2 separate regions of the Homo sapiens genome follow, and region 1 is linked to region 2. The links come from fine-mapping of genetic effects on gene expression. A gene starts in region 2. The other region holds a variant in brackets. All regions are shown on one strand. Distances are from middle to middle.

The links. PIP is the estimated chance that this variant, and not a neighbour inherited with it, causes the effect.
Region 1: its variant is fine-mapped to the expression of CD9 in monocytes after LPS (Quach 2016, PIP 0.93). The same link has a PIP of 0.9 or more in monocytes after Pam3CSK4.

Annotation. Positions count from the first base shown.
Region 1 is chr12:6,128,259-6,144,617 of GRCh38, forward strand. No RefSeq gene overlaps it. Among named protein-coding and RNA genes, the nearest start is that of VWF, 12 kb to the left of the region's middle. RefSeq lists an enhancer at 14,089-14,646. The variant T/TG (reference allele first, on the strand shown) is at 6,549.
Region 2 is chr12:6,192,348-6,208,706 of GRCh38, forward strand. It overlaps CD9 (CD9 molecule), which reads left to right and starts at 8,053. Exons shown (of 8, transcript NM_001769.4): 1 at 8,053-8,218. The coding sequence starts at 8,153. RefSeq lists a silencer at 1,749-1,798 and enhancers at 6,925-7,537, 7,538-8,149, 9,376-9,988, 9,989-10,600.

The DNA of each region.
Region 1 (16,359 bases), 64 kb before region 2:
GTTTGAAGTCCCAGAAGCAGACCCTGAGTATTTTAGTGTAGATAATTGATTTGGGAGGACAGGAAGCATCGGCAGGGAAGTGGGAATGTGATACGGGGCAGGGAAAGCAGTCAATAAAAGATGTTTATTATGCCAGCCACCAAGTGGACAAGAAAGCTTCCTTCTGGAGGGAAGTCTGGGAAAATGTAAGATCCATGCCTCTGAATCTTCCCACTCTTGGGTCAGGGAGCAGGAGAGTTTCTACACTTACTCCTTCCTGTCAGTTATTGTCAAGGCTGCTTCAGGAGGCATTCAGCCCTCAACACTTCTGGCCCTCAGGCACGGAGGAGCAGACACTGGTAGTCTAGAAGAAACGGAGAGATGGGGTTAGAGGGCCGTGGCAGAGGGACTGTAACATCTGGTCTACCTGTAAATTATTGTTCAGAGTTGAGGAAACATAGACTTTTTTTTTTTTTTTTTTTTTGGAAAAACAGAGTGGGCTTAACATTAACAGTCCTTTCTGAAGAAACTACTAAAGAAGGAATTTCAGGGAGAAAAAACATTTTTTGTTATTGTTTCTGAGACAGGGTCTCTGTCACCCAGGGTGGAGCGCAGTGACACAGTCACAACTCACTGCAGCCTAAACCTTCTGGGCTCAAGCGATCCTCCCACCTCAGCCTCCCTAGTAGCTGGGACTATGGGCATGTACCACCATACCTGGCTAATTTTTGTATTTTTTTGTAGAGACAGGGTTTTGCCATGTTACCTAGGCTGGTCTCAAACTCCTAGAGCTCCTGGGCTCAAGCAGTCTTCCTGCTTCGGCCTCTCAAAGTGCTGGGATTACAGGTGTGAGCCACCTCGCCCTGCCAGGAAGAAGAAAATTCAGCCTAGAAACAGGATGCCAAGAAAAGGTAAATAAATAAAATAGTAAATCTGGGGGTAAATATGAGCAGGCAGTCATTATATAAAACAATAACAATGGTAATGATAAGTTGGAGAGTTATTAAAAATTAGAACCAAAATACCAGATAGCAATGACATGTAAGACAGGAGTGAAAGTGTATTAAGGTCCTTGCATGGCTCAGAAGGAAGAAACAGGTCATGATCACTTTAGACTTAGTTAAGGCTATACTGCATAGTAAGATTTTAAGGGAGGCTACTGAAAGAATAGAATTGAATGTATGTTTTCCAAACCTATCGAAAAAAAACAAGAAATTTTTAAAAACTAGATTGATCTAGGAGAAAAATGGAAAAAGCAAGACAAATAGTATAAAATGTAAATGCAACAGTACAAAAAATTCAAACAGATCAATAATCAATAATAAAAAGGTAGAGATTATCAAATTGGATTTCTTTAAAAAGGCACACAATCCAGCAATGTTCAAGAGACAGTCCTAAAATATAAACACACAAAGACCGTAAGGAAAAGAAAGGAGAGGCAAGTGATGGCCAAGGAAAAGCGTTTTATACCACTATCACACACAGTGGACCTTAAGATCAAAGTCATCATTAGCACCAAAGAGTAGAAAAAGGTGATACAAAGATCAATGCACCAGGAAGATGGAATCTATAGATTTATGTGCACTTCATAATATAAGCTTAAAATTTATTTTTAAAAACGATTAAATTATAAAGCAGAAAAGCTTTCAGTTTTGTAAAAGTCAACAACACCCAGTTATGGAAAACAAGTAAACAAAACACTTAAGTAACCTATAAAAAGAAGGGAAGGTCCTTGGCCTGAGACACAGAGCATATTTCATACTTATGGTAAAATGGAAGCCACTTTCCCTTTAAAAACCAGAACAAGGCCGGGCGCGGTGGCTCACGCCTGTAATCCCAGCGTTTTGGGAGGCCGAGGCCTGTGGATCACGAGGTCAAGAGATTTAGACCATCCTGGCCAACATGGTGAAACCCCGTCTCTACTAAAAATACAAAAATTAGCTGGGCATGCCGCTGGCGCGCGCCTGTAGTCCCAGCTTCTAGGGAGGGTGACGCAGGATAATTACTTGAACATGCAAGCATGTTCTTTTTTTTTTTTTTTTTTTTTTTTTTTTGAGACTGAGTCTCGCTCTGTAGCCAGGCTGGAGTGCAGTGGTGCGATCTCGGCTCACTGCAATTTCCGTCTCCCAGGTTCATGCCATTCTCCTGCCTCAGCCTCCTGAGTAGCTGGGACTACAGGTGCCTGCCACTACGCCCGGCTAATTTTTTTGTATTTTTAGTAGAGACGGGGTTTCACCGTGTTAGCCAGGATGGTCTCGATCTCCTGACCTCGTGATCCACCCGCCTCAGCCTTCCAAAGTGCTGGGATTACAGGCGTTGGCCACCGCACCCGGCCGACAAGCATGTTCAATGTCATCACTGCTAGTCAATATTGGATCAGATGCCCAGGCCAGCAAAGTAAGAGAAGAAGAGAAAATATGAGGTATGGAGCTTAGGAAAAAGCAAAATAGTTATTATTTGAAGATATGAATGTGTACATAGAAAAATTCAAAAGAATCTACCTAAGAGTTTAGAAGTTTGCCGCAAGATTCCTTTTTAAAATCTATTATGTTCCCATATAGTTATAAAATACAATCTTTGAAGTGGCCCTATTAGTAAAGTAGCAATTACTGCAGATACTTAAGAATAAATAGAATAGGCCGGGCGTGGTGGCTCACACATATAATCCCAGCATTTTGGGAGGCCGAGGTGGGCGGATCACTTGAGGTCGGGAGTTTGTGACCAGCCTTGCCAACATGGTGAAACCCCGTCTCTACTAAAAATACAAAAAATTAGCCAGGTGTGGTGGCGCATGCCTGTAATCCCATCTATTGGGGAGACTGAGGCAGGAGAATCGTTTGAACCAGAGAGGCAGAGGTTGCAGTGAGCCTAGATCATGCCTGGACAACAAAGCAAGACTCTGTCTCAAAAAAAAAAAAACAAAAAAACAAAAACAAAAAAAAAACTGTCCAATATTACAGAGAAAATCATAAATCTTGTCCCAAGACATAAAAGAAAACCCAATGAAGAGACATGCTGTGTTCATATTTACTAAGTCACAATATTGTAAAGATGCCAAATATCCTCAGATTAATCAATAAATTAAATACAATTTCAATCCAACAGGGTTTTTCATATAATTAGACAAGCTGATCCTAAACTCCATATGGGAAGCAAAATATCAAGAATAGTTAAAAACGCCTGTAGTTCCAGCTACTCGGGAGACTAAGGCAGGAGAATGGCGTGAACCCGGGAGGCGGAGCTTGCAGTGAGCCAAGATTGCGCCACTGCACTCCAGCCTGGGCGACAGAGCGAGACTCTTGTCTCAAAAACAAAAAAAAAAAGAATAGTTAAAAACAATTTCAAATGTGGCCGGGCGCGGTGGCTCACGCCTGTAATCCCAGCACTTTGGGAGGCCAAGGAGGGCAGATCACCTGAGGTCAGGAGTTCAAGACCAGCCTGATCAACATGGAGAAAGCCTGTCTCTACTAACAATACAAAATTAGCCGGACGTGGTGGTGCATGCCTGTAATCCCAGCTACTCAGGAGGCTGAGACAGGAGAATGGCTTGAACAGGGAGGCAGAGATTGGGGTGAGGCGAGATCCCACCATTGCACTCCAGGCTGGGCAACAAGACCGAAACTCCGTCTAAAAAAAAAATGGCCAGGTACGGTGGCTCACGCCTGTAATCCCAGCACTTTGGGAGGCCAAGGCGGGCGGATCACAAGGTCAGGAGATTGAGACCATCCTAACACGGTGAAACCCTGTCTCTACTAAAAATATAAAAAATTATCCGGGTGTGGTGGTGGGCGCCTGTAGTCCCAGCTACTCAGGAGGCTGAGGCAGGAGAAGGGTGTGAACCCGGGAGGCGGAGATTGCAGTCAGCCCAGATTGTGCCACTGCACTCCAGCCTGGGCGACAGAGCAAGACTCCGTATCAAAAAAAAAAATAGAAAAAGAAATGGACAAACAACCCAGTGGCAATAGAGAGTGATATGGAAAGACAATCTACAGAAAAGGAGGAAACGCAGTTGGCCAGTAAACATACCAAAACCAGGTCGGGCGTGATGGCTCACGCCTGGTAATCCCAGCACTTTGGGAGGCTTAAGCGGCAGGATCACCGGAGGTCAGGAGTTCGAGACCAGCCTGAACAACACGGTGAAACACCTAGTAAAAATACAAAAATTAACGAGGCGTGGTGGCGCACCTGTAGTCCTGAGAGGTGACAGCCTGCTGGCAGCCCTCCCAGCCCTCGCTGGCTCTGGGCGCCTCCTTGGCCTTGGCGCCCACTCTGGCCGCACTTGAGGAGCCCCCCTTCAGCCCGCTGCTGCGCTGTGGAAGCCCCTTTCTGGGCTGGCCAAGGCTGGAGCCGGCTCCCTCAGCTTGCAGGGAGGTGTGGAGGGAGAGGCGCGGGCGGGAACCGGGGCTGCGCAGCGGCGCTTGCGGGCCAGCGCGAGTTCCGGATGGGCGTGGGCTCAGCGGGCCCCCCACTCGGAGCGGCCGGCCAGCCGCGGGCAGTGAGGGGCTTAGCACCTGGGCCAGCAGGTGCTGTGCTCGATTTCTCGCCAGGCCTTAGCTGCCTCCCTGGAGCGCCGCCCCCTGCTCCAGGGCGCCAGGTCCCATCGACCGCCCTAGAGCTGAGTAGTGCCGGCGCACTGCGCGGGACTGGCAGGCAGCTCCACCTGCGGCCCCAGTGCGGGACCCACTGGGTGAAGCCAGCTGGGCTCCTGAGTGTGGTGGGGACTTGAAAAACCTTTTTGTCTAGCTAAGGGATTGAGAATACACCAATCAGCACTCTGTCTAGCTCAAGGTTTGTGAATGCACCAATCAGCACTCTGTGTCTAGCTGATCTGGTGGGGACTTGGAGTACCTTTATGGCTAGCTAAGGGATTGTAAATACACCAATCAGCACTTTGTATCTAGCTCAAAGTTTGTAAACACACCAATAAGCACCCTGTGTCTAGCTCAGGGTTTGTGAATGCACCAATCGGCACTCGGTATCTAGTTAATCTGGTGGGGCCTTAGAGAATCTTTATGTCTAGCTAAGGGATTATGAATGCACCAATCAGCACTCTGTATCTAGCTCAAGGTTTGTAAAAGCACCAATCAGCACTCTGTATCTAGCTCAGGGTTTGTAAATACACCAATCCACACTCTGTATCTAGCTAATCTAGTGGGGACATGGAGAACTTTTGTGTCTACCTCAGGGATTGTAAACGCACCAATCAGCACCCTGTCAAAACTGACCAATCAGCTCTCTGTAAAACAGACCAATCGGCTCTCTGTAAAATGGACCAATCAGCAGGATGTAGGTGGGGCCAGATAAGAGAATAAAAGCAGGCTGCCAGCTCCAGCCCTGGTAACCCGTTTGGATTCTTTTCCACCTTTTAGGTGCTTTGTTCTTTGTAATAAATTTTAGTGCTGGTTATTCTTTGGGATCACACTGCCTTTATAAGCTGTGACGCTCACTGCAAAGATATACAGCTTTAGTCCTGAAGCTACGGAAAACATGAACCCACCAGGAGAAACGAAGAACTCTGGATGCGCTGTCTTAAGAGCTGCAACACTCAACAGCGAAGGTCTGCAGCTTTATTGCTGAGTCAGCAAGACTGCGAACCCACCAAAAAGGAAAAACTCCCAACACATTGGAACATCAGAAGGGACAAACTCGGGACACGCCGCCATTAAGAACTGTAACAAACACCGCGAGGGTCTGCGTCTTTATTCTCGAAGTCAGCCAGACCGAGAACCCACGAATTCCAGACACAGACTCAGCTACTCGGGAGGCTGAGGCAGGAGAATCACTTGAACTCGCGAGGCAGAGGTCACAGCGAGCCAACATCACAGCATTGCACTCCAGCCTGGGCACAAGAGCAAGAGCAAATCACCATCTTTAAAAAAAAAAAAAAAACCCAAAACCTGTTCAACTTTGCTGGTCATGAGGGAAATCTAAAATAAAACCACAATTAGTTACCCACTTCTCAGAATGGCAAGGAGGGGCTCCTGAAATTCCTATATGTTGCTGAGGACAACAGGTAAAGCACTTTGGAGAAAGTGTGGAAATATATCTATAAAATGTAAAGATGCTCTTCCCCACAGTCTTGTGACTGCATGCATAGGCGTATCCCCTAGAGAAACTTTCACGCATGTGCACCAACCAGCATGCACAGAATGTTTACTGCAGCAGAGTCTGCAGTCAGAGATGTGTAAACAACCAGGCTAAATATACTTCAATAGAAGAATTAATAAATTGTATGTTCATCCAGTGAAATAACAAATAGCAATTAAAAATAATCTAGGCTACATGTATTAACATGGAAAACCCCCCAAAATAATGGTGAACAAAAAACAAAAGCAAGGATCAGAGGATACGTACCATTTACATAAAGGTAAAAACCATGTAAAATAAAACTATATATTATTGCTTACAAATATGTTTAATTGGCTAATCATGGTGGCTTACACCTGTAATCCCAGCACTTTGGGAAGCCAAGGCAGGAGGATTGCTTGAGGCCAGGAGTTCAAGATCAGCCTGGGTAACATACAGCAACCTCATTTTTATGGGGAAAAAAAAAAACAACTAGCCGGGTA[T/TG]GATGGTGTGCATCTCTAGTCCCAGCTACTCGGGAGGCTAAGGTAAGAGGATCACTTGAGCCCGGGAGTTCGAGGCTGCAGTGAGCCGTAATCATGCCATTGCACAACAGTCTGGGCAACAGATTGAGACTCTGTCTCAAAAAATAAATGAATAAATAAATACGTTTACTTACAGTAAAACATGCAGGTGGAGTGATAACCTGTAAATTCGGGATACTAGTTACCTCTAGGGAAGAAAAGAGAAGATGGAATCCAGAGAGTGGGACCTAGGGGGCCATACCTCTCTGTAAATATTTTGTTAATTATTTCAAAAGTATAAAGCAAATATGGCAAAATGTTAACATGCAGCAAGCTGGCTAGAACATGGGTGTTTCTGCATTATCCTCTTTAGTTTTCTCTGTGGTTGAAAGTTTCACTTAAAAGATAAAGCTCTGAAGCCAAGTGACGTGGAAATATTGGCTTTGCCTTACAAATAGCAGGGTGACCAACATCCTGTACATAAATCCTCACACACACAGCCCATTTCCTTGAAACAAATTCCTAGAAGTAAAAGAAATTGCTCGGTCAAAGGGCACAAAAATTAAGCCTTTTATATATCCTCCCAAGAACTTTACCAATTTACCCTTCTATAGCATTATTATTTTTTATTACAGATTTGGTAATGTAAGTGGCAAAAACTATTATAAGATTATTACTTTAGGCCAGGCGCCATGGTTCACGCCTGTAATCCCAGCACTTTGGGAGGCTGAGGTGGGTGGATCACGAGGTCAGAAGATGGAGACCACGGTGAAACCCCGTCTCTACTAAAAATACAAAAAAAATTAGCGGGGCACGGTGGCGGGCGCCTGTAGTCCCAGCTACTCGGGAGGCTGAGGCAGGAGAATGGCGTGAACCCGGGAGGCGGAGCTTGCAGAGAGCTGAGATCACGCCACTGCACTCCAGCCTGGGCGACAGAGCAAGACTCCGTCTTAAAAAAAAAAAAAGATTGTTACTTTAATACTCATTCCTTTCATTATTGGGAGAACATTTTCTAACATTGTCGATGTGTATTTCTTCTTTTGTGAATTTCTTGTTCATGTCTTTAGCTCATTTTTAACTGAGATGCTTATCTATATTGATCTATAAAAGCTCTTTAAAGATTAAAAATGTTAGTGTTTTCTCACATTGATATGAGGATTTTTTTTTTCAGTTCTTCACTTTAATATATATTGATGAGGGTTTTTTTTGTTGTTTGTTTTTTGATGTACAGGAGTTTGAGGAATCATCTCATGTTCTTTTTCTTTTTCTTTTTTTTTTTTTTTTTTTTGATATGGAGTCTTGCTCTGTCACCCAGTCTGGAGTGCGGTGGCGAGATCTCGGCTCACTGCAAGCTCCGCCTCCCAGGTTCACGCCATTCTCCTGCCTCAGCCTCCCAGGTGGCTGAGATTACAGGCATGTGCCACCACACCCAGCTAACTTTTGTACTTTTTAATAAAGACTGGGTTTTACTATGTTGGTCAAGCTGGTCTCAAACTCCTGATCTCAGGTGATCCGCCCACCTCGGCCTCCCAAAGTGCTGGGATTACAGGTGTGAGCCACCATGCCTGACCTAAGGATCTAGTAATCTAGGATGATCTATCTTGCCATCCTTGATTACATGTTCATAGCCAGGTTGACAGAAGAATCCAGGGGGTTACCAGGTGCTCAGTAAACAAACTCAAGGATCTGAAATCTTCACTCCATCCCACTTGCTGCTTCCTTCTTCCCAAGCCCATTATGACTCCTTTAATGACCAGCAGCCCAGCGACTTTCCTCTGGCATGGCCTCAAGCACTGCTTCAGCTCCACCAGGAGCACCAAGGCACTAGAGGCCAGGCAGGAGCAGCCCAGGTGGAAGGCCCCAGGGCGAGGAGGAGCCCCAGCAGCCTGCCTCTTTCCCTTTCGGTGGGCCCTTCTTCTCCAACCTCCCATCCAACAGTCAGCACACGTGCCTTCCTCCTGCACCCTTGCTGAGCACACGCCCACGTCCACCCTGACCCCACACCCTGCACCCCAGAATGTCTGATTGGTCCCCGGAGGCATTGCTTCCCAGACACCTCTTGTGTTCAGCTCACACTGTTCCACCATCCAAATGTCCTGCCTCCTCCCCACTCCTCCTCTCTCCTGTTCATCCTTCCATGTCCCCCTCCTGCAGAGGGAGAATTTGTCATTTGGTGAACACCTTGCAAGTACCAGATACTCTGCTAGCTGCTTGTGAACACTGTGTTACTTCATCCTCCTCTGTGAGTGTCCCAGTGCTGCCGTAACAAATCACCACAAACCGAGTGGCTTAGAACAGCACAAATGTCTTCTCCCACAGTTTTGAAAGGAAGAAGTCTGAAATCAAGGTGTCCACAAAGGCTGTAAGGGAGAGACCTTCCTCACCTCTTCCAGCTTCTGGTGGCTTCAGACTTTCCTTGGCTTGTGGCAGCATCACTCTAATCTCAGCCTCTGTCTTCACATGGCTCTCTCCTCATCTCCCTGTGTGTCTCCCACTGTATATTTCTTATAAGAACACCTGACATTGAATCTAAGTAATCTGGAAGGACCTAGTAATCTTTTTTTGGTTTTTTTGTTTGTTTGAGTCGGAGTCTCACTGTCACCCAGGCTGGAGTGCAATGGTGCAATCTCAGCTCACTGCAACCTCTGCCTACCTGGCTCAAGTGATTCTCTTGCCTCAGCCTTCCAGGTAACCAGGATTACAGGTACGTGCCAACACACCCAGCGGATTTTTGTATTTTTAGTAGAGACAGGGTTTCACCATGTTGCCCAGACTGGTCTTGAACTCCTGACCTCAGGTGATCCACCCGCCTCAGCCTCCCAAAGTGCTGGGATTACAGGCGAGAGCCACCGCACCCAGCCTCTTTGTTTTTGTCAAGGTGGAGTCTCACTCTATCACCCAGGCTGGATTGCAGTGGCACAATCTTGACTCACTGCAGCCTTCACCTCCGAGGTTCAAGTGATTCTCCTGCCTCAGCCTCCCGAGTAGCTGGGATTACAGGCACCACCACCACACCCAGCCTTTTTTTTTTTTTTTTTTTTTTTTGGTATTTTTAGTAGACAGGGTTTTGCCATGTTAGCCAGTCTGGTCTCAAACTCCTGGCCTCAAGTGATCTGCCCACTTCGGCCTCCCAAAGTGCTGGGATTACAGGCGTGAGCCACCACACCCCGCCTAAGGATCTAGTAATCTAGGGTGATCTATCTTGACATCCTTAATTACATCTGCAAAAAGCCTTTTTCCAAGTAAGGTCACATTCACAGGGTCCAGGAGTTAGAATGTGGACATGTCTTTTGGGGGTCACCATTCAATCCACTGTACCTTCTAACAACCGTTTGAGGGAAAGAGAGCGTTACTCTCATTTTATAGTTGAGGATGCTGAGGCTCAGACAGGGTAAGGGCCTTGCCTAGGATCACACTGCTACCAAAGGCAGCCAGCATCTGAATCTACCTGATTACAAAGTCCGTGTTTTCTCCACTATACCTATAACTCTTCCATAAGCCTTTTCTCCTTTCCTCCCACCCTTCACCCCCGCTTTTCCTGCCTTTGAACCACCTCTGGGTGCTTCTGTGGCCCTCTCATCTTTTCATGCATTTTTCTTTTTTTTGAGACGGAGTCTCGCTCTGTTGCCCAGGCTGGAGTGCAATGGCGCGATCTTGGTTCACTGCAACCTCTGCCTCCCTGGTTCACGCCATTCTCCCACCTCAGCCTCCCGAGTAGCTGGGACTACAGACGCCCACCGCCACACTCAGCTAATTTTTTGTTTTTATATTTTTAGTAGAGACGAGGTTTCACCGTGTTACCAGGATGGTCTTGATCTCCTGACCTCGTGATCTGCCCGCCTCGTCCTCCCAAAGTGTTAGGATTATGGGCATGAGCCACCGCTCCCAGCCTTTTCATGCATTTTTGTTTGTCTTATCTCCTCCAGTCTGAGCTCTCCTTAGAACAAGACCTTGCCTTACTCATCTCTGTATCTTCCAAAGTGCTCTGTCTGGAGCATAGCACATGGTAAGTGCTCCATAAATGTCTGTTGAACTCCCTGCTAGTAGAACAATGATGTGGGTTAATTAGCATATAATATTAAAATGTAGCTACAGAACTGAAACTGCAGATAAAAAAAATTGCTTAATACCCAAGGAAGTTGTTGCCTGCTCTCCAAATCATCAGCACAGAAGATAGCACTCGTCACTGTGGTTGGGGAAATTGCACGGTGAAAGTCACAGGATGGCTCTGCAAGGGGGCAGGGACATCAGACTGGGGTCACGTTCCCATGTGGTATTCTGCGCCTGTAACTCATATGACACTCTGGCACTATTTCTAAATAACACTCAAGTGTCTGTTTTATCAGAGTATAACACACTTGGCTGGAATAGTTCACTTACTGATATTCCACAATTTATGTAACCAGTTCCATATTATGGGATATTTATTTAGGTTAGTGCTACTTTTTTTTTTTTTTTTTTTTTTTTGAGATGCAGTCTCGCTCTGTCACCCAGGCTGGAGTGCAGTGGCGCAATCTCGGCTCACTGCAAGCTCCACCTCCTGGGTTCATGCCATTCTCCTGCCTCAGCCTCCCGAGTAGCTGGGACTACAGGCACCCGCCACTACACCCGGCTAATTTTTTGTATTTTTAGTAGAGACAGGGTTTCACCGCGTTAACCAGGATGGCCTCAATCTCCTGACCTCGTGATCCGCCCGCCTCTGCCTCCCAAAGTGCTGGGATTACAGGCGTGAGCCACCACTCCCGGCCTACTTTTTTTTTTTTTTAATTAACAATGCTGCAGTGAACATCTTTGAAGCTATATCCATGCACAACCCTCAGGATTACTCCCACAGGATGAAATCCTACATGTGGAGCACTGGGTCAGCCACCGTCCACATTTTCAGTGAGGCCTTTGACAATAAGGCCAAATGGCCCCCCTGAAAAATTGCAATGGTTTATAATGGTTGCAATGGTTTAATTACCCATTTGCTGAGTAGGATTTTGCCAGGTGAAAATGAGGGCAAAGGCACATCAGCTGCAAGGAAGGAAGTAAAAGCTTAGAAGCAGGCAAGCTCTGAGATGCTAAATCAGTAAGTAGGTGAATAAGCCAGTTGTTACAGCCTATAAAGGAGACTCACAGGAAAAGAGACCAAAGAGAGGAATAAGAGGCAAGTCCTCAGGGACCTTCAACCAGTGTAGGGGTTTATGTTCATCCTGTGACACCAGATGAGGCCCTCTGGCAGCAGTGGCATGTATTGTGAGAGGTCAGATGGAGAAAGGGAGATCCATTAGTGGTTGGTGGAACCTTCCCGGACAGGGAAGACGAGGGCCTGGAGGAGACCATGGGTTTGACAAGAGAAGAGCAGATACAGCCAACCACGTAACACATTACGGTAGCAGAAGAACAGCCAAAGATGTCTACATCCCATCTCAAACCTCTGAATGCTACCTTACATGGCAAAAGGGATTTTGCAGATGTGAGCAAGTTAAGGGTCTTGAGATGGGGAGATGATCCTGGCTTACCCCAGAGTATCCTGCTGGGCCGATATAATCACAAGAGTTTTTATAAGAGGAGCAGGAGGGTCAGCATCAGGGAAGGAGATGTGATGATGCGAGCAGAGGTCATGCAACGCGGGGCCACGAGGCAAGGAATGTGTGCCCCTGGAAGTGGATAGAGGCGAAGAACAGGTTCTCCCATAGAACCTACAGAAGGAATCCAGCTCTTCCAACACACCTTGATTTTGATCCAATTCGAGCTTCTTACAATTACGAATTGTAAGATAAATTTGTGTTGTTTCAGGCCACTAAGCTTGTGGTCATTTGTCACTGCAGCAATAGAAAACTAATATAGGCCAAGATATCATGCCACACAACCTGCTCCCTTGCCCTCATGGAGGGTGTCCCAAGGCAGCTTTGCCAAATAAGTTAGAGGACAATTAGTGCTGTGAGGCTCAAGGAAGAAGGATCCCTGAGGACCACAGTATGAGAGCCATTAGAACTTGGGCTGATGTAAACAGCATTAAGTACAAATGGGAAGGGTGCGTGACCTCTGGGGGCGCATGGGGCAGGGCTGCTCAGAGGCAGGGGGATGGGTAAATTGACCTCTGCCTGTCTGAGGAGTAAGTTCTCCAGGTAACTAGTACAAAAGCAAAAGAACCTCAGGGGAGGAAAGGTTTTCTAGGAGGACCCATCTTTGTCTTTTCTTTGTATATTTGTAGCATCTCTCTTACGTAAATTCTGCAGGAAAGAGAATTTTCTTGGCAGTATGCGCCAAATAAATAAACACAGCAGTATTTCTTAGGCCAGACGACCAGCTCCCAGCATAAAGCTGTAGCCCCCAGCGGAGAGGAAGCTGTCCTCCTCTACTTCCTCTCTTCTAAAGACAAACATCTTGTGCAAGAATAACATGCTCACTTCCTTCACAATCATCAAAATAGAGAGGACCCACCCACGCTACAATGTCAGAAGAATGGTGCAGCTTCAGACTCATCTTCCCTGGTTCTCAGGAACAATGACACCACATTATTGCTGCTATCGAGCTACAGAGAACTCAGACCATTACATCTGGTGGCATTCCTGGCCCCAGTAGTAGCACAGCAGGATTCCTGACCCCAGAATCACTATCTCAAGACCTGGGGTTCTAATTTGAGAGGCAGAAAGTTACAGCAACTCAAATTTATATGCATCTTACAAAATAGCTTCAAAATACATAAATTGACAATTGACTTCAAAAAGGCTTTCTCAATTATCCATAGGTCAGGCAGATAAAAATCAGTAAAGATAGAAATTTTAAAAACAATGATCAGCCTAGGCAACAAAGTGAGACCTCATGTCTACAAAAAAAAGAAAAAATTAGCCAGGTGTAGTGGCACACATCTGTCATCTTAGCTATTCAGGAGGCTCAGGCAGGAGGATTGCTTGAGCCCCGAAGTTCCAGGCTGCAGTGAGCTATGATTGCACTGATGCAGGGCAAGTAAGCTCCCAAATTGGGACTTAGCCCTGGAAGATTCTTGGCTTTGCTCAGGAAAGAATTCAAGAGCCAGCTGGTGGTAGAAGAAAACAGCTTTATGGAGGCAGCAGTGTGACAACTTTATGACTACTCCTGCAGAGCAGGGCTAACCCCTAGGCAATGTGTTGAGAGCACCAGCTCAGGGGCAGGTCAACAGTCATACATATACCCACTTTCAATTACTTGCAAGTTAAGGTATTGAGAGGTGACAGCGTGCTGGCAGTCCTCAGAGCCCTTGCTTGCTCTCAGCACCTCCCCTGCCTGGGCTCCCACTTTGGCGGCATTTGAGGAGCCCTTCAGCCCCCCACTGCACTGTGGGAGCCACTTTCTGGGCTGGCCAAGGCTGGAGCCCGCTCCCTCAGCTTGCAGGGAGGTGTGGAGGGAGAGGCGCGAGCAGGAAGCAGGGCTGCGTGCCGCGCTTGCGAGTCAGCTGGAGTTCCGGGTGGGCGTGGGCTTGGCGGGCCCCACACTCAGAGCAGCCGGCCAGCCCTGCTGGCCCCGGGCAATGAGGGACTTAGCACCCGGGCCAGCAGCTGTGGAGGGTGTACTGGGTCCCCCAGCAGTGCTGGCCCACCGGCGCTGCGCTCGATTTCTCGCCGGGCCTTAGCTGCCTTCCCGCGGGGCAGGGCTCGGGACCTGCAGCCTGCCATGCCTGAGCCTCCCACCCACTCCATGGGCTCCCGTGTGGCCCAAGCCTCCCCGACGAGCACCACCCCCTGCTCCACGGCGCCCAGTCCCATCGACCACCCAAGAGCTGAGGAATGAGAGCGCACAGCGCGGGACTGGCAGGCAGCTCCACCTGCAGCCCCAGGTGCGGGATCCACTAGGTGAAGCCAGCTGGGCTCCTGAGTCTGGTGGGGACGTGGAGAGTTTTTATATCTAGCTCAGGGATTGTAAACACACCAATCAGCACCCTGTGTCTAGCTCAAGATTTGTGAGTGCACCAATCGACACTCTGTATCTAGCTGCTCTGCTGGGGCCTTGGACAACCTCTGTGTGGAAACTCTGTATCTAACTAATCTGATGGGGACGTGGAGAACCTTTGTATCTAGCTCAAGGATTGTAAACGCACCAATCAGCGCCCTGTTAAAACAGGCCACTCGGCTCTACCAATCAGCAGCATGTGGGTGGGGCCAGATAAGAGAATAAAAGCAGGCTGCCGGAGCCAGCATTGGCAACCCGCTCCGGTCCCCTTCCACAGTGTGAAGGCTTCGTTCTTTTGCTCTTTGCAATAAATCTTGCTATTGCTCACTCTGGGTGCACACTGCTTTTAAGATCTGTAACTCTCACCGTGAAGATCTGCAGCTTCACTCCTGAGGCCAGCAAAACCACGAGCCCACCGGGAGGAACGAACAACTCCAGATGCACTGCCTTAAGAGTGGTAACGCCCACCGCAAAGGTCTGCAGCTTCAATCCTGAGCCAGGGAGATCATGAACCCACCAGAAGGAAGAAACTCTGAACACATCTGAAAGTCAGAAGACACAGACTCCAGATGTGCCACTTTAAGAGCTGTTAACTACGAGGGTCTGTGGCTTCATTCTTGAAGTCAGTGAGACCAAGAACCCACCAATTCCAGACGCAGTATGGGTTATTCAGAAATTTCTAGAAAAATGGTGGTAACTTTCACGTGGTTGCCATGAAAAGAGGTGGTAACTTCTGTGTGTTGCCATGGCAATGGTAAACTGACATGGAATTGGTTGTCAGGTCTTTCCCCCCCCCCCCCCCCCCCAGCTGGAGTCTTGCTCTGTCTCATAGGCTAGAGTGCAATGGTGCAATCTCAGCTCACTGCAACATCTGTCTCCCAGGTTCAAGTGATTCTCTGGCCTCGGCCTCCTGAGTAGCTGGGATTACAGGTGCCCACCACCACGCCCTACTAATTTTTGTATTTTTAGTAGAGATGGGGTTTCACCATGTTGGCCAGGCTGGTCTCAAACTCTTGACCTCAAGTGGTCCGCCCACCTCTACCTCCCAAAGTGCTACGATTACAGGCGGGAGCCACCATGCCCAGCCAACTGGTGGGCATGTCATGGAGAGGTGTTTTCCCCGCCTCTTCCCTGTTTCAGCCAATCTTCAATCTGGTCCAGAGTAAGATCCTGCCTCCTACCTCAGCACCACTGCATTCCAGCCTGGACAACAGAGTAAGACCCTGTCTCAAAAAGCAAACAAACGGGCTGGCCCGGTGGCTCACACCTGTAATCCCAGCACTTTGGCAGGCCGAGGTGGGCGGATCACTTGAGGTCAGGAGTTCGAGACAAGCCTGGCCAACATGGTAAAACCCCATCTCTACTAAAAATACAAAAAAAAAAAAATTAGCTAGGCATTTTGGCGTGCACCTGTAATCCCAGCTACTTGGGAGGCTGAGGAAGGAGAACTGCTTGAACCTGGGAGGCGGAGGTTGCAGTGAGCCAAGATAGTGCCACTACACTCCAGAACGGGTGACTGAGTGAGACTCTGTCTCAAACAAAAACAAAAAACAATGGTTAAACCCTATTATTGCATTTTTGGGCATTTATGCCAGAGAAATCTAAATAGTTTCATGTTAAATATTGTACGTGAATGTTCACAGAAGGTTTTTTTTTTTTTTTTTGAGAGAGAATCTCGCTCTGTCACCCAGGCTGGAGTGCAGTGGCGCGATCTCGGTTCATGCCATTCTCCTGCCTCAGCCTCCTGCGTAGCTGGGACTACAGGCACCCGCCACCACCATGCCCGGCTAATTTTTTGTATTTTTAGTAGACACGGGTTTTCACCGTGTTAGCCAGGATGGTCTCGATCTCCTAGCCTCGTGATCCGCCCGCCTCGGCC
Region 2 (16,359 bases):
CCTGCCTCAGCCTCCTGAGTAGCTGGGATTACAGGCACCTGCCACCACGCTCAGCTAATCTTTTTTTTTTTTTTTTTTCTGAGACGGAGTCTCGCTCTGTCGCCCAGGCTGGAGTGCAGCGGTGTGATCTCAGCTCACTGCAAGCTCTGCCTCCCGGGTTCACGCCATTCTCCTGCCTCAGCCTCCCTAGTAGCTGGGACTACAGGCGCCCGCCACCACGCCTGGCTAATTTTTTGTATTTTTAGTAGAGACAGGGTTTCACTGTGTTAGCCAGGATGATCTCGATCTCCTGACCTCGTGATCCGCCCGCCTCAGCCTCCCACAGTGCTGAGATGATAGGCGTGAGCCACCGCGCCCGGCCGCCCAGCCAACTCTTTTAAACAGATGCATGAAACCTGAAATTATCACCCAGGACAAATCTTGTAAGAGTCTAGTGGATGATTCAGAAAGAAGTTGCTACAGGAGTGTCCTGAGAAAGAGGATCAGAGCAGACTAAGATGACTGAGGGTGCTGGGGAAGGCAGGGGCTGGGCTGGCCTCAGAGATGGTGCAGGCTGCTTGAAGGGCAGAAAGGAGGAAGTGCCAAGAGCTTGGGCTTCGGAAAGAAGAGGTGGGGACCCAGGCATAGAGCTGGGGATGCATGTGGTATTCCAAAAGAGTGAACAGATTTGCAAACAGAGGTTAAGGCGAGAGAGCAGAGGGCCTGTATGATGATCTTACAATTGAGACATCGGCTTTCCATACATTCAATAAATATTGTGCACCTACTGTATGTCAGGCACTGTTCAAAGCCCTTGGGATACATAGAGAACAGAACAGCCATGCGGATTTTGCATTCTAGCTGGAGGAGACAGGTAAATAGCAATGCACATACCAAGGAAACATTCCACTCTGTGAGAAGGTAAATGCTATGGGAGCATTGTTTGGAAGTAGAACAGGGGTAAGGGGAGTTGGGAGATCTTTGAGCAGGAAAGAGTAAAGCTGAGCTTCAGGAGTCTGATGAAAGGATGATATTAAATATTGCTTGTTTAGAATTGCTCCCCGCCTGCCCCCAACCCCCATATACTAAGGAGGACAGACCCTGAGAGCCATGATTTGTTTTGCTGAGCAGGGTGAGGGGAGGTGGGGACACAAACGGAAAATGCCAAGTTTAGAGCTAAATTGCTCCACACAGACATATGCAGAGGACATCCACAGGGCAGGGGGCTGGCTGAGGCTGGGCTGGGGGGCAGATGATAGGGGTGGCTGCCACAGATTGGACGTTTGAGAAGAGCTATCCAGAGGGATTCTTAGAATGGTTCTCTCTGGCATATGAGAGGGAACCCCTCATCCACCTATCCGTGAAACCTTCATAAAATCCACACTGGACATAGGCAGTTTCCAGGTTGAGTGTGTGTGTGCTTAATGCAAGGAAAAGAAGTGATGGGTGAGAGGAGGGCAGCCCACCCCCAAGGACGCACGCAGCAAGACTCTCTGGGTCCAATGTTGTGTCCATCCTGGGCAGGTGAACAGCAGCGAGGCAGGGCAAGGGTAGAACAGCCGTTTGGGCTGCAGATGAGCTTCCAGGATGCAGCCCCCTTGCGGATGGCAGGGCATCAGGGGGAACAAAAGATCAGGATCCAACCCTGGACTGAAACCAGAAGCTCTGAGGTCTGATCTGTGCTCTGCCACTCAATCACTACAACCCGCCTTAGCCCTGGTGCCTCCCAGCAATGACGTAAGAACAGCTAAGAAACAGGAATCACATTCACTAAGCAGCTGTGAGGCTGGGGGAAGGAGGAGCCCCAGGTGATGGGAGGTGTTGGTGCTGACTGATTAGAGACAGGGAGGGCTGAGGAGAAAGTCAGCTGCGAGCCTAGAAAGCCCTTGGAGATTATGAATTCTGATCTTGATGTTTACATTGAGATTACTATATTTCCTATTGCTTCGGTAACAACCACAAATTTAGTGGCTTAAAGTAACACATATTTACTATTTCACAATTCTAGAGGTCTGAAATCTAAAATGGGTGGGCAGGGCTGTGTTGGATCCCTCTGGCAGCTGCAGGGGAGAATTCGTTTCTTCGCCTTCTCCAGCTTCTAGAGGCTGTCCTTGTTCCCCAACACACAGCTGTGCATCACTGCGACCTCTGCTTCTGTCGTCACATCTCCTTCCCTGGCTTTGACACTTCCACCTGTCTCTTATAAGAACCCTTTGGATTCCACTGGGCCCACTGGGATGGTCCAGGCTATGCCATGGAAAGTAACACATTCACAGTTTTGGGGATTGGAACGTGGGCCTATTTGGAGGGCCGTTAGAAGTGGAAACGGGCCAGGCACGGTGGCGCACGCCTGTAATCCCAGCACTTTGGGAGGCTGAGGTGGGCGGATCACCTGGGGCCAGGAGTTCAAGACCAGCCTGACCAACAGGAGGAAACCCCATCTCTACTAAAAATATAAAAAATATAAAAAATATAAAAAACACGGTGGCTTACGCCTGTAATCCCAGCACTTTGGGAGGCTGAGGTGGGTAGATAACGAATTCAGGAGTTCAAGACCAGCCTGGCCAATATGGTGAAACCCCGTCTCTACTAAAAATACAAAAATTAGCTGGGCATGGTGGTGTGCGCCTGTAGTCCCAGCTACTTGGGAGGCTGAGGCAGAAGAATCACTTGAACCCGGGAGGCAGAGGTTGCAGTGAGCCAAGATCGTGCCACTGCACTCCAGCCTGGGTGACAAAGCGAGACTCCGTCTAAAAAAAAAAAAATTATTAGCCGGGCATGGCAGCGCACACCTGTAATTCAATCTGCTTGGGAGGCTGAGGCAAGAGAGTCTCTTGAGCCCAGGGATGGAGGTTGTAGTGAGCCGAGATTGAGCCACTGCACTCCAGCCTGGGCAACAGAGCGAGACTTGGTCTCAAAAAAAAAAAATCTGCAGGCTCTTGGATATCAGGACTTGCATTTACAGAGAGATGAGTTAAACAGAGAAAATGGTGGAAGGCACAAAAGGGGATGAGTGCTCCAGGAGAGGTCTGAGAGAGAAGGGCAGGGGCCTGAGAAAGCCCCACGCCCAGCCGTCATTCTGCAGATGTTTGCAGAGGGCCTGCTCTGGGCCAGGAAGGGACCGGGAGCTAGGGAGAGCACAGAAATTAATCAAATGCAAGTGCACCCTCGAGGAGCTCACTACCAAGAAGTGGACACATAAAGGAAGATGATGATGACCAGAGAATCACACATGCGAGACTCAAGGTAATCCACGGAGAAAAAGACTGGAGTGCTCCAGGAAGGCTTCATAAGGTGGTGTATTTGAGCTTAGAAAGAGGAACAGGAGAGAAGCTTCTAGAAGTGAAGGAGGTGAATCAAGATGGCCACTGGTGTGGTGGCTGGAAGGGCCTTGGTGGCCTGTGAGAGCGAGGGTCCTACCTGTTGCCTTACAAAGCCATTGCCCACAGCTGGAGGGACCTGGGGCATGGGTGTGACGGCTCATTAGGTCACCTGGCCTCTGCGTGTTCAAATCTTACCACCAGGGGGGGCACAAGAGCCAAAGTGGACCCTGAGCCTGAGCTGGGGTTTCTTTCCCAGAGACAGGACGCCTTGAGGGAAGGGAGGAAAAGCTTTCCCACTCCAGCACCACAAAGCCTGGAAGGCCTGGCTGCTTCCATGTGATTTCTGACTCAGGGGCTTACCCATATTTTCCTCTTCCGGTTAAGGCAAAACATAATTTTTCCATCGCTCACCTTCCTGGTTGCCTGTAGCACTAACTGTCTGTAACAAATGCACTTTGGCCCAGGGGTTTATTGTGACACAGAATGTCAGGAGGAATGAAAGACACCTCCTGATCCAAAATGCTGTGAACCAAAAAGTATCTGAGACAGGTCTCAATCAATTTAGAAAGTTTATTTTGCCAAGGTTACAGATGGGCGCCCAGGAGGCAGATCTGTGCCTTCTGCAAAGATGATTTTGAGGGCTTCAATATTTAAAAGGCGGCTGGTGGGGAAAGAGGAAGAAAGTTTTTTTAAGGTGTGGGTAGGTAAGAAACAAACGGTTGCATTCTTTTGAGTCACTGATCATCCTCTCACTGAATGCACAATTTACATGGCAGAGGAGGGTAGAGAAATAAGTCACTTATGCCTTGTCTAGCACAGCGAATCTTCATTTTTACATTGGAGGAAGCAATCAGATATGCATTTGTCTCAGGTGAGCAGAGGGATGACTTTGAGTTCTGTCCTTTTTTCTGTACCTGTGAAGATATGCTATCAATTTACATTGTCATGGTGAAATTCAACAGAACTGTTTTAGGGCAAATATCATAGGGTCCACCAGAAATTTCCTCATGGGCAAATTGTGAAAGAAGTGCATAGCTGCTTTTTTTTTTTTTTTTTTTTTTGAGACGGAGTCTGGCTGTGTCCCCCAGGCTGGAGGGCAGTGGCGCGATCTCGGCTCACTGCAAGCTCTGCCTCCCGGGTTCACGCCATTCTCCTGCCTCAGCCTCCTGAGTAGCTGGGACTACAGGCGCCCGCCGCCACGCCCGGCTAATTTTTTTGTATTTTTAGTAGAGACGAGGTTTCACCGTGTTAGCCAGGATGGTCTTGATCTCCTGACCTCATGATCCTCCCGCGTCGGCCTCCTAAAGTGCTTGGATCACAGGTGTGAGTCACAGCGCCCAACAAGAAGTGCATAGCTTTTTTTGTTTTTTCTTTTTGAGACGGAGTCTCACTCTGTCGCCAGGCTAGAGTGCTGTGGCGCGATCTCGGCTCACTGCAACCTCCAACTCCCTGGTTCAAGGGATTCTCCTGCCTCTGCCTCCCGAGTAGCTGGGATTATAGGTATGCGCCACCATGCCTGGCTAATTTTTGTATTTTTAGTAGAGATGCGGTTTCACTATGTTGGCCAGGATGGTCTCGATCTCCTCACCTCGTGATCCGCCCACCTTGGCCTCCCAAAGTGCTGGGATTACAGGCGTGAGCCACTGCGCCCGGCCGAGAAGTGCATAGCTTTTTAAAAAATCTTTGTAGCTATCTTATTTAGGAATGGGAGGCAGGTTTGCCTGTGGCAGTTCCCAGCTTGATTTTTTCCTTTGGCTTATTGATTTTGGGGTCCTAAGATTTATTTTCCTTTCACAATACTCTTGTACAGGTGAGGAGACTGAGGCCCAGAGAGGAGGCTGCCTGCCTAACATAGACCAAAGGGTCAGAACCAAGAGTAGAACTCAGACCCCCTCACTTCAGGCCCAATGCTCTCATCACATAAAAAGGATGCCTTGATTATACGAATGTGGCACTGAACTATATAGGCTGACCCCAATTCTTTCTTCAGTGTAAACAATAATAGGAATAGGAGCAACAGGCAGCGTTTCTGCAGCGCTTCTGTGGCAGGCAGGTTCTAAGGCCTCCCTGTGGATTTCCTCTGTCAACACTCACGTTTACCCTAATAAGTAATTTCTATTATAAACTTAAATATTTACTGAACTCCTCCCACCAGTACTTGTTAACTTGGGAGAAGGGGGAGATGCAATAAAATCTTTCTTTTCCTAAGACCTGTCTCCCAAGATAGATGGACGCAGGCCCAAAAGGGCACAATGGAACACTGACTGTTTTCCGGCCTCCTTCCCACCCTCCAGGGTGCTTCACACTCCTCCCCTGTGCTGGAATCATCCTGGACACTGGTTAGGATGTGTAAAGTCAAGCATCACCAAAATTCCTCTGCTTGTCCTCTTGGCATTAGGCTCAGTTTAGGCCCTGCCTCTCCTTCCTTGTCCTCCTTCCTCCCCATGTACCACTATCGGTTGTTTCCCCAGTGCAGCCAGCTGCCCGCTTCTGTGTCTTTGCATATCCAGTTCCCTCTTGGAATTCCCTCCTCCGCATTGACTACTGACTCCACCTTCCCAAGTCAAGTCAGCTGCTGCAATGTCCCCTGCTCTGGGGAGCCTCTCGGACTCAGATTGACGTGGGGATGTGCCCTGTGCCCCTACTTGTTACTAGCTTCTGCTGCTCTGCCTCTGATCTCTCCCTCCCCTTCCCGGCCTGACACCTCATGGGGTTTTGCCCTGCCTTCTCTAGGCTTTATCCCATTGCCCCGCCTTCATTCATTCTTCTCTCACCTGAACTACTCCACAGCCTCCTAGCAGATTTGCACCTGGTCCTCAGCTCAACTTTCATCTACCACTGCTCCCCTCATATTACCTGATTGCGTCTCCCCAAATACAACATCTCCATGTTCCATGCAATCCCGTAAAGCACTGAGCCAAGGACTGGAGATGCCAACAATGGTCCTGGTCCTCAAGGGGCTTCCTACCTGCCCCTCCGGCCTTCCCCCACCCAACTACCTAAAACACAGGCAGAGAACCTCTGAAAACACAGCAGATCCAACCATTCCCCTGCTTGAACCTTTCGGTGGCCCCTAATGCTCAGAGTGCAAAGTCCAGGAGCACAAGGCTCTTTCTCACCTTCCCACAAACTACCCCGTGACTCCAGGCTCCAGCCCAGAGCCCGGACAGCCCCTGCCCCAGCCTTTGCCCAGGATTCTCCCTTGGCGGCAACTTTCCCTGTGGTTCTGCAGCATCATCTCCCAGTCTGGGTCAGAGGCCTCTCCTTAGCCTCTTAGCCCCCAAGCCTCTCCCCGTAACTGCACCTATCACCCTCAAACCATTGTCTGGCTGCCTGTCTCCTCCCACACTGGTCCCTGAGCAGAAACAAGGACTAATCCATGTTTTTCAGCTCCTACCCCTAATGAAATACCCTAATAGATACTGAAAAATGTTTTTGAACCAATGAGACAAGTCTACTGATAATAAACAGGCAAATAACAGCAATGTGCTAACAGTGGCTGTTTCTGGTGAGCAGAATTTTGAGGTCTGTTCCTTTCACTTCTTGGTATTTCGGTTGTTTCTGTAATGACTGTATCTTGCTTTTGTAATCATAAAGGACAGTAAAGGAAACTTCATTTTGAAAATAATACAAAGGGATTCGGGGACTTCAAAAGAAGGTGACTCTCCTCGTCCACTCCAGAGAATCAGGAAAGGAGTGTTTAAAGACCCACAGAATTCCTACAAGTGACGTTGGGGGGGGGCCAGCCAGCCAGGGCGCATGCCGGCCAGCGAGTGGGGTGGGCTCTGGGTCCGGGAGAAGTCAGATCAGTGCTCTGTACAGGGCCTTGAGGGCAAGACGAGGAATTTCGACTTAGGTCCTTGAATCTGGAGAGCTACAGAAAGTTTGTGAGCTCAGGAGAAGCGCTCCGAGCTCGGCATCTGGAGCAGTTCAAGGCAGCAGCGAGCAAGTCCAAAGACGCAGGAGGGAGGGTGGGGTGGAGGAGTAGAGAGAAAACAGAAGCCGTCTACAGACCCTTTTTCCCTCTGGGGCAACTAAACCTCAAGTGCAGGAAGCGCTTGGGGACTGCCCAGCCCTCAGCTGTGTTATTATTCGGTGATAGGTATTTGCTAATTACTTCCAAAAGCCTCCCATCTGTCATCCCACCCAGACTGCGCGCTTCTAATTCCTCCTACCCCACATGCTGTGCCCAATGAAAAGTATGGTCAGCGAGCGAAGGTTTGCAAGGAGACAGACGAGGGCGAAATTAAGCCAGGCGGCTTCCCTTTAAATCCTCGCAAAGCAGAAGGGCCCCTCACTCTGGCAGCAGGCCTTGGCCAAGGGGCCTTTAGCCCTGACGACCCGGGGAAGAGTCTCCCAAAGCAGAACGCCCGGTCCGGCGCCCAGACCAAACGCGGGGGAACCGGAAGGGCGAGGCCTCCACGTAAGTCCGCGGTAAAAGTGGCAGGGAGTGGCTGCCTGCAAAGACCCCAAGACGGCTTGAAGAAGGAGTGGGTGGCGGGTGGGGGTTAGGGCGACTAGGCGGGGAAACAGGGAGAGGGTCGGGCTCCGCGGGGCAGCTGGGGCCGGGGCTCGCCGACCTGGGCGGGGGCGGGGGGCGGGGGGGGTGCGGCCCGGGCGGGGCCGGTGGGGCGGGAGGCGTGGCCGGCGGGGGGAGTGGGGGCGGCTTTTCCCGGCACATGCGCACCGCAGCGGGTCGCGCGCCCTAAGGAGTGGCACTTTTTAAAAGTGCAGCCGGAGACCAGCCTACAGCCGCCTGCATCTGTATCCAGCGCCAGGTCCCGCCAGTCCCAGCTGCGCGCGCCCCCCAGTCCCGCACCCGTTCGGCCCAGGCTAAGTTAGCCCTCACCATGCCGGTCAAAGGAGGCACCAAGTGCATCAAATACCTGCTGTTCGGATTTAACTTCATCTTCTGGGTGAGTGAGCGCGACTGCCGCGCGCTCCTCTCAGGGCCCACCTGTTCGCGGGCCCCGGACACTGGCCGCGGCCGCGAGTGCCGGCAGCTGGCACTGCCCGCACCGGGCAGGCACCGGGCGGGAAGAGAGAGCGCCCTGCGGCTGCCAGCTGGCTCCAAGGCCGGGTCCAGAGCCGGGCGGGACGGCCGCGACGGGCGCATTCGGGTGGGGGCTCATCACCGCCCAGCCGGCGTGGGGAGCCGGGCCCTCTTGAGATGAGGCGTGCGGGAGGGTCCTGAGCACTTTAGCTCGCCTAGGATTTGAGCTGGGGTGTGTGTCTGCTCCCAGCTCAAGTCCCTCCGAGTGCCAGAGAGGAAGGCAGGGAGAAGCGGAGCACCCCTCTTTGGGCCAAGGCCAAGGAGGACTGTGGTGAGCAGTATGGCTTGTGACCGGGTGGGGTCTCCCAGGTAGTAGGGGGCGCCAGGAAGGGAGGGTGCGGGCACGGCGAGAGCTCAGCCAAGAGCGGCTCTCACTTTTACGCAGGAGCGGCAGGGGTGCCTCGGCCGCGGGTCCGGCCCCGGGACCCAGTCCCTGAGAGTCGGGGGCCCCTCCACCCTTGAGGAGGAACCTCGCAGGCCCCCGTTCCCTCAGACTTTGATTCTGAGCCACCGTGAGAGCGCCGAACTCCCTGGTAGCTCCCTGAAAGACTAGCTTGTCTTGATTTCTTTCAAGGACGATAAGTATCTTCACTGGAGAGAACTCAGAGTTCGGGAGAGGAGGGGGCAGATACCTATCTGCGCCTCTAGTGGGATGAGTCCTGTGTGTGCATTTCCGGGAGAGATCAGGTGCCAGCCAGCTGCCCGCCCAGGAGAGCCTTGGCCTTGCCCTCTCCCCTCCCCGCCAGCCCAGGCGGCCCACCCAAGGCCAGGCAGGGCGCAGAGCGGACGTTCATCTGGAGAGGCCAGCGGGGCCAGGAGCTCCAGAGACACCTGCTGCAGGCCACTCAGCCTCTACAAATGGGAAGGCTGAGAGGCGACAGAAGCAAGGAATAGGAAACCCTTGTGTCCTTGTTTCTATAGCCACATTCCCTGCACACACATGACAATACTTGCCGCTCTGCAGGCAGGAAGAGAGTCTCTATGCCACTCTCAAGATAGATGGATGTAGAAACAGGTGCATGCCACCAGAGTCTTGTAACAAAAAAGTGCACTTGGCCAGGCACAGTGGCTCATGCCTGTAATCCCAGCACTTTGGGAGGCTGAGGCAGGAGGATCGCTTTCATCCAGGTTCAAGACCAGCCTGGGTAACATAGTGAGACCCCCATCTCCACAAAAAAATAAAAAATTAGCTGGGCGTGTTGGCATGCACCTGTGATCGCAGCTACTCAGGAGGCTGAGATGAGAGGATGGCATGAGCCTGGGAGGTCAAGGCTGCGGTGAGTCATGATTGCACCACTGCACTTAGCCTGGGTGACCTAGTGAGCCCTGTCTCAAAAAAAGTAGAAAAGAAACAAATGCACTTATTCCCCCTGGAGCTGGTCACTGAGGTCCCCACAAGCCTCCTTAGGGAAATCTTCTAAGATTCACTCCTCCCCAGAGCTGAAGGGGTGGTTGAACAGTTTTTCCAATTTGCAGAGACTGACTTCCCCCAGTGCATCAGTCACCATAACACACACCCCAGTGAGGACGGCATATAGGTGTGCTCCTTCCCAACCCTTGACTTGCTTTAAAAAGACCCTGCTGGCCGTGGGCACCCCTCCTCCTGTGTTGCCACCCACCCCAGCAACCACCCAGCTGCCACGCTTAGCTTCTTTCTTTCACCAATCCCTGGCAGCAGAAAAGTATGCGGGAAGGCAGCTGGCCTCACCCACCCTTGAACTTTGGGAGTTTTCCTCTCCCCTCCCAGGTACAGTCTCTCCCGGCTGGTGTGTTGGTTAGTCCTCAGCTGTCTGCCTAGACTGCATCCAGGTTTGGGACTGCAGGGAAACACAGACTGCCACAGTGTGCCTCCCTACCCCCATCTGCCCCATGGCATATGCAGGAAGCTGATGCGAGGCTCACAGGGCCACTGGTATCTACTCTGTCTGTGGCCTGCTGGCCTGCAATCTGTCCGTACTGTCCTCAGCCTGCCACCCCACTCGTATTCAGAACCCCCTATGCCTGGCCCCAGCCTAGGTGCAGCTGATGACCTATGTAGTCTGAAACAGAAATCACTCACACTGGAAATGTTTGGAATGACTTTTGAAGATCATGCAGTCCAGCTCTCTTATTCATAGTGAGGCAGCAGAGGAAGAGAGATGGGGTGATTTACCCAGGATCGCAGAGACAGAGCCAGTATTACAATTCCTGGGGCCCCTACTTTACTTCTGTCCTCTTCCATCTTCATCAGAGGCAGGAAGATGGGCAGTAGCTATGTTTTCCTGAATTACTGTTCATTTGTCCTGTATCTGGGTCCCTGTGGAGATGAAGCCCTCATCCCTAGGAGATGATGTAATGAAAAGGAAGACTGTGGTCGGTCCACTTGTGCAGAGTGTTAGTCTTTAGAGCCTTTCTTGTTCTAGTCCCATGATGTAGCCAAGAGCAGGAAGCATTGTCCCCACTGTACTGATGATCAGGAAACCATTTCCCAGAGAGGTTAGGTGACTTATCCAAGGTGATGCGGCAGGGTGGTCTCAGAACTAGGTTACTTTACCCAACTGGTTTTGGCTGCTGAGTGGGAATGGGAGAAGGGTGGGAAGAAGCTCCCAAGACTCCCTTAAGGAAAGGTGTAACCTAAGGGAACTGCTTGGGTGATTATGTTGTCACCACGTCCGTTTCTCTCTTGAGACCAGACATTTATAAACTTGGCATTCGGAACCTGATGTGGGCCTTGAAAAGCAGGAATTGTGAGGCCAGTGCCCAGCAGCACTTTGCACAGAGGCTGCTGAGAGGGGGTGTCCAACAGGCATCCAGAGAGAGGCCAACCTCAGTGGAGTAGGATGGTTATTGGGGGGCTGTGCCTCTTCCCTGGCCTGATCTCATCCCTGTGGGTCACTCCCTGATGGCCACAGCCAAACCAGCAAATCAGTCTGTTCTTCCACCACCTCCAGAACCGGCCCTCCTAGCTCTATTTTGATTGTTTCTACATTTCCTTCAGACCTCCCTGCCCGCCTGCCCACCCCCCAAAAAACAGTTGAGAGGGAAAACATCTTGCTGATGTCCATGTGGTAGACACACAAGTATTTCTCCAGCTGAAATGGGGAACCAGGGTTAGGGCCAGTCCAGTCTGACACATGCATGTCTGCCCTCTTTCTGGTCAGAGAAGGGGAGGAACTCCTTAGGGCAAAAGAGGGAAAGGTTTGGCTATACTGACAGAGCCCAATCCCCTCCCCACCTCCCTCAGCCCCTTTGCTTACTGTCTCTCATGCCTCGCTCACTGATGGAAACAGCAGTGTGGGGCTGGGAGGTCTCTTTCCCAAGAAACCATATCCCCTAGACCTAGGGGAGGCTGGTGCGAAACACAGAGACCTACACTGGGAATTCAGAGACCTGGATGTGAGCCCAGCTCTGTCCTCAACTCACTTTGAAACCTTGGGTTGGTCACTTCTGTGCTCTAAGCCTCAGTTTCCTCATCTGTAAAACAATAGCTTGGAACAAATGGTCTCAAAAGGTCCTTTCAAGCTCAGTCTATGAACCCAACACCCCTACACATACCACATACAACAATAGAACTCTCCTACACAACCCAAAATAGGAACCAATATTGGGTACGATGTATACTATGTTGGTGATGGTCACATTAAAAGCCCAGACTTCACCATGTGTAACAAAACTACATTCGTGTCCCCTAAATCTATAAATAATAATATAATAAACAAAATACAAGCCCTGAATTGGAAATGGGAGATGGATACCAAGGCTTGAGTCCTCAGAACTTAGCTTTTCTTGGCCTTTACCTCTGGAGCAAGAGCCCAGCTGGTGCTTTTCTTTGCTGTTGCTTCTCAGTTCCCTCTCCTCACCCTGGGTGGGGTCTCTCTCAGGGGTGTTCATTGCCCGTATACCTTAGTACTTGGCCTAGTGATCAAAGCACCAGTCCTGGGTTCCATGTCTCATCACCAGATGGGGCTGGTGACCACCCCACATGGTGCTGTGAGAGTTAAATGGGGAGTATGTGTAGTGCACTTAGCATAGTAGATTGCACCAGACATATCTTCCAACAGTAGCTATTGTTATTCACTAGTGGAGAGTAGAATGAGGCCCTGGGGAGGGTGAGAGCAGTTCTCTAAGAAGTGTGGAAGTCTAAACCGCAGATGTGGCCAGGAGGACCCTCCCAATCCACACACTGGCCTCCCTGCCCCTTCCTGTATCAGTGCCAACTTTGTCCTGTGCATCAAAACCCTGACTCCATTTCATGGGTTGCTACTGCTCATTTGGCTGCGGGAAGGCCCCGCTTCTGAAAATAAAATTGCCTGTCAGAGAAACCCTAAGGATCAGGATTCCGGATCTGGGCAGGGCATGGACAAGTTGGGTGGCAGTGGCAAAAGCCCCTCCCCATGGTCTGCCTTTTCCCCCAGAAGCAAGTTGCTGGGACTGTTGCATAAAATGGCTCCCACCTCCAGTGCCCAGACAGCCTGCGCTGGGGTGAAGCTGGCTACACGTGCACTGAAGCTGGCAGGCTTGGGGAGAGGTGAGCTGAGGCCAGGTATCTGCTTCCTTTGCCCAGGATTTTGATGGTCTCTCCCCTACACCCACAGTGGGTGTGAACAACAAAGACCCAATCTTTTGATGGTGGTGAGGATTCCTCTGCACACGCTCACACTCACGTTCTCTACCCCCTTCTTTTCAACGTGGCCCACAGCACGATTCCAGACCCTGCTCTATTGTGCTCAGAGGAAGCAGCTGCTGGCTCCAGCCCGAATTTGGGAGTGCTTTGATATGCAGCCCTCTCTGGGGCCCTGCCAGTACTGACTCTAGATGAGCCCTCTGCGGCTGCTGGGCTCACAAATCAGCCTTCTCACCCCTTCCTCCAGGAGCAGTGTTGGATGAGAATCTCCCCCTTACACACATAGATCCTGTGTTTGTTTTGTCTGCTTTTGTTTGTTTGTTTGTTTTTGTTTTCCTGTTCTGTTCAATTTTATAAGGAGGCATAGCTTTTGGACTTGGTTGCAGGGTTGGGTTTGGAACTTAATAATACCTTGGATTGACAAAGGCGCCTTTTCTTCTAAAGAACACAAACCTTGATGGTTCTTGCCTGGGTGTGGTTCTCACCTGGGTGAGCCTGGCTGTGAGGGTAGGGGGCCTGAGGTCACCCCAACCACAGCTTCTGTGGTCCTACTGGCAGCATGTTCTAGACAGACCTGTGTGGAGCTGGGGAAAGGAGAGTGGAGAAGTTTGAGGAAGCTGCATGTTTATGTTTTGTGTTCCTCCCTCCCCCAGGTTGGGGTCAGCGGGACTTTATTTGGATCCACCACAGGTCTTTTCAACCAAAGCCTTGCAGAAACAGGCTTTACCCCATACACACAGAAGAGCAACGACTTCCTTGTTAAGAGTCTGAAAATCTGGGTGAGAGCCTGTCAGACCCATGGCCTCAGAGAGCAGGAAAAATCCTTTGCAACTGGGAAGGAAATTCAGAAGACAAAAAAAAAAAAAAATGCAGGGGAATAGGGGGCGGGGGCTAGTCTTTATACATTTCTTTCTTTCTTTTTTTTTTTGGAGACGGTGCTCACTCTGTCACCCAGGCTGGAGTGCAGTGTTAACAATCATGGCTCATGGCTCACTGCAAACTCAACCTCCCAGCTCAGGCGATCCTCACACCTCAGCCTCCTGAGTAACTGGGACTACAGGCATGTGCCACTACACCCAGCTAACCTTTTAATTTTTTTGTAGAGACAGGATCTCACTATGTTGCCCAGGCTGGTCTCAAACTCCTAGGCTCAAGCGATCTGCCAACCTTGGCCTCCCAAAATGCTAGGATTACAGGAATGAGCCACCGCGCCTGGCCTACATTTCTTAAATTTATGTTTTAAGGCCTGACTACAGATTACTTGCCTGTTTTATTCCATGGAAAAAGTCATGCTGGTCCAGGGACATTCTCATTTTCCATCAAGTGATGGCATGCAGCCGTAGAAAGCAACATCCTGTCCCCAGATGAGATAATTTTTTTGTGATAATTTTATAATAATTGTATCTATCTGGTAATTTCCTCCCCCCGCCTCTCCAAAAATACTTAGTTGTGGATAGTTTTAAGTGCTATATCCTGTCATCCTAGACTAATACATCTTAACGTTTTTAGGGAAATTCCTTTTTAGGGAATTCCTTGGAATCAGTACGACCTGCCTCCAGAAAAATGTTATGTCTGTTTCTGGAGGCCCATAGACATTTTTTTTTTTTTTGCCTTTTTCTCCATTGCCCAGGCTGCAGTATAGTGGCACCATCATAGTTCACTGCAGCCTCAAACTCCTGGGCTTTACACAATCCTGGCCTCAGCCTCTCAAGTAGCTGGGACTACAGCACACACCACTATACCCGGCTAATTTTTTTGTACAGAGAGGGTCTCTCTATGTCGCCCAAGCTGGTCTTGAACTCCTGGGCTCAAGCAGTCCTTCAGCCTCGGACTCCCAAAGCACTGGGATCATAAATGTGAGCCACCACGCCCAGCCTGAGCTCACGCTATAAATGCCCCATATTGGTTTTTCTCCCTCAGTTTCCAGACAACCCCTGCTCTGTCCTGAGTCCCATATTTCTGCCATAAGAAGCAGGTTGCCTCACCGTTCCCCGGGGGCTGCAATGGGGGCATCACAGGGGACTTTGTGAAAGGCATTAGAAATGATAAATTCCCTAGTGATCAAGTGCAGCTCAGATGGGACAGCTGGCCTCCCACCCATCCCTCTGACTCTCAGCTTAATCATTGCCTAAGGAGTGGTTTTCACTCGGTTAATTTAATGAGTGCTCTGTATTTCTAGTACACACGAAAAATGCAACTGTATGATCTTCCAGCCAGGTTGGGCCTCTTGGCTTAGCTTTTCCCAGAGCTTGGTGCTTCATCTTTGTTCAGGAAGAAAGGAGGTCTGTCTCTCTTCTCCTTCCCTCCAAATGCAGACGGAAAGTCTCGTCCTCTGAGGACTTGCAGAAAGGAGGAATGTCTCAGGAGGGATCATTTGGGGAGCTGCACTCCCAAGGAGTTGAGAAGCAGCCTGGTTGAGTAACTGGGAAAGGCAAAGCAGCCTGACTTGGAGAGGGGCCCGGATTAATGTGATTCCAGAGGAGGTCCCGGTAGAGAGAAGTTTGGGGACTACTGACTTGGAGAAAAATCAGAAACCCGGGTCTTAAGAGCCCTTCCTCTTCAATCCTTAAGCCAGGCATTGTGCCTGAGGGAAGAAATAGTGGCTCTTATGAGCTCTGCTAGAAAAGTAACCCTTCAGGCCAGGCGCGGTGGCTCACGCCTATAATCCCAGCATTTTGGGAGGCCGAGACAGGCGGATCACCTGAGGTTGGGAGTTTGAGACCAGCCTGGCCAACATGGAAAAACCCCCTCTCTACTAAAAATGCAAAATTAGCCAGTCATGGTGGCAGGTGCCTGTAATCCCAGCTACTTGGGAGGCTGAGGCAGGAGAATTGCTTGAACCTGGGAGGCGGCGGTTGCAGTGAGCTGAAATCGTGCCATTGCACTCCAGCCTGGGCGACAAGAGTGAAACTCCATCTCAAAAAAAAAAAAAAAAGAAAAGAAAAGTAACCCTTCACAGCTTACCCAATGCACATCCAAGTTTCCAGTGACACCTCTGAGCAGGCTAAGCAGCTGGTGGCTCCTGCCAAGCCCTCTCCTCGGAACTGAGCTTCACAGCTTCAGGTGCCAGTCCCTTGCTGACACTCCCAGTCTAAGCTGTGTGTTAGTCTCCAAGTTCAGAAACAACACAATACATGGGTCATAGGAGAAGAACCTCGACTGAGGCTAAAAATACCATAAAGTTAATCAGGCAGTTTTATTAATTATGAATTTATTAATTCAAAACCTATTCAAGGATTTTAGTTTTTTTTGTTTGTTTGTTTGTTTTTGTTCTTTTTTTTTTGAGGTGGAGTTTCACTCTTGTTGCCCAGGCTGGAGTGTAATGGTGCGATCGCAGCTCACCGCAACCTCCGCCTCCTGAGTTCAAGCCATTCTCCTGCCTCAGCCTCCTGAGTAGTTGG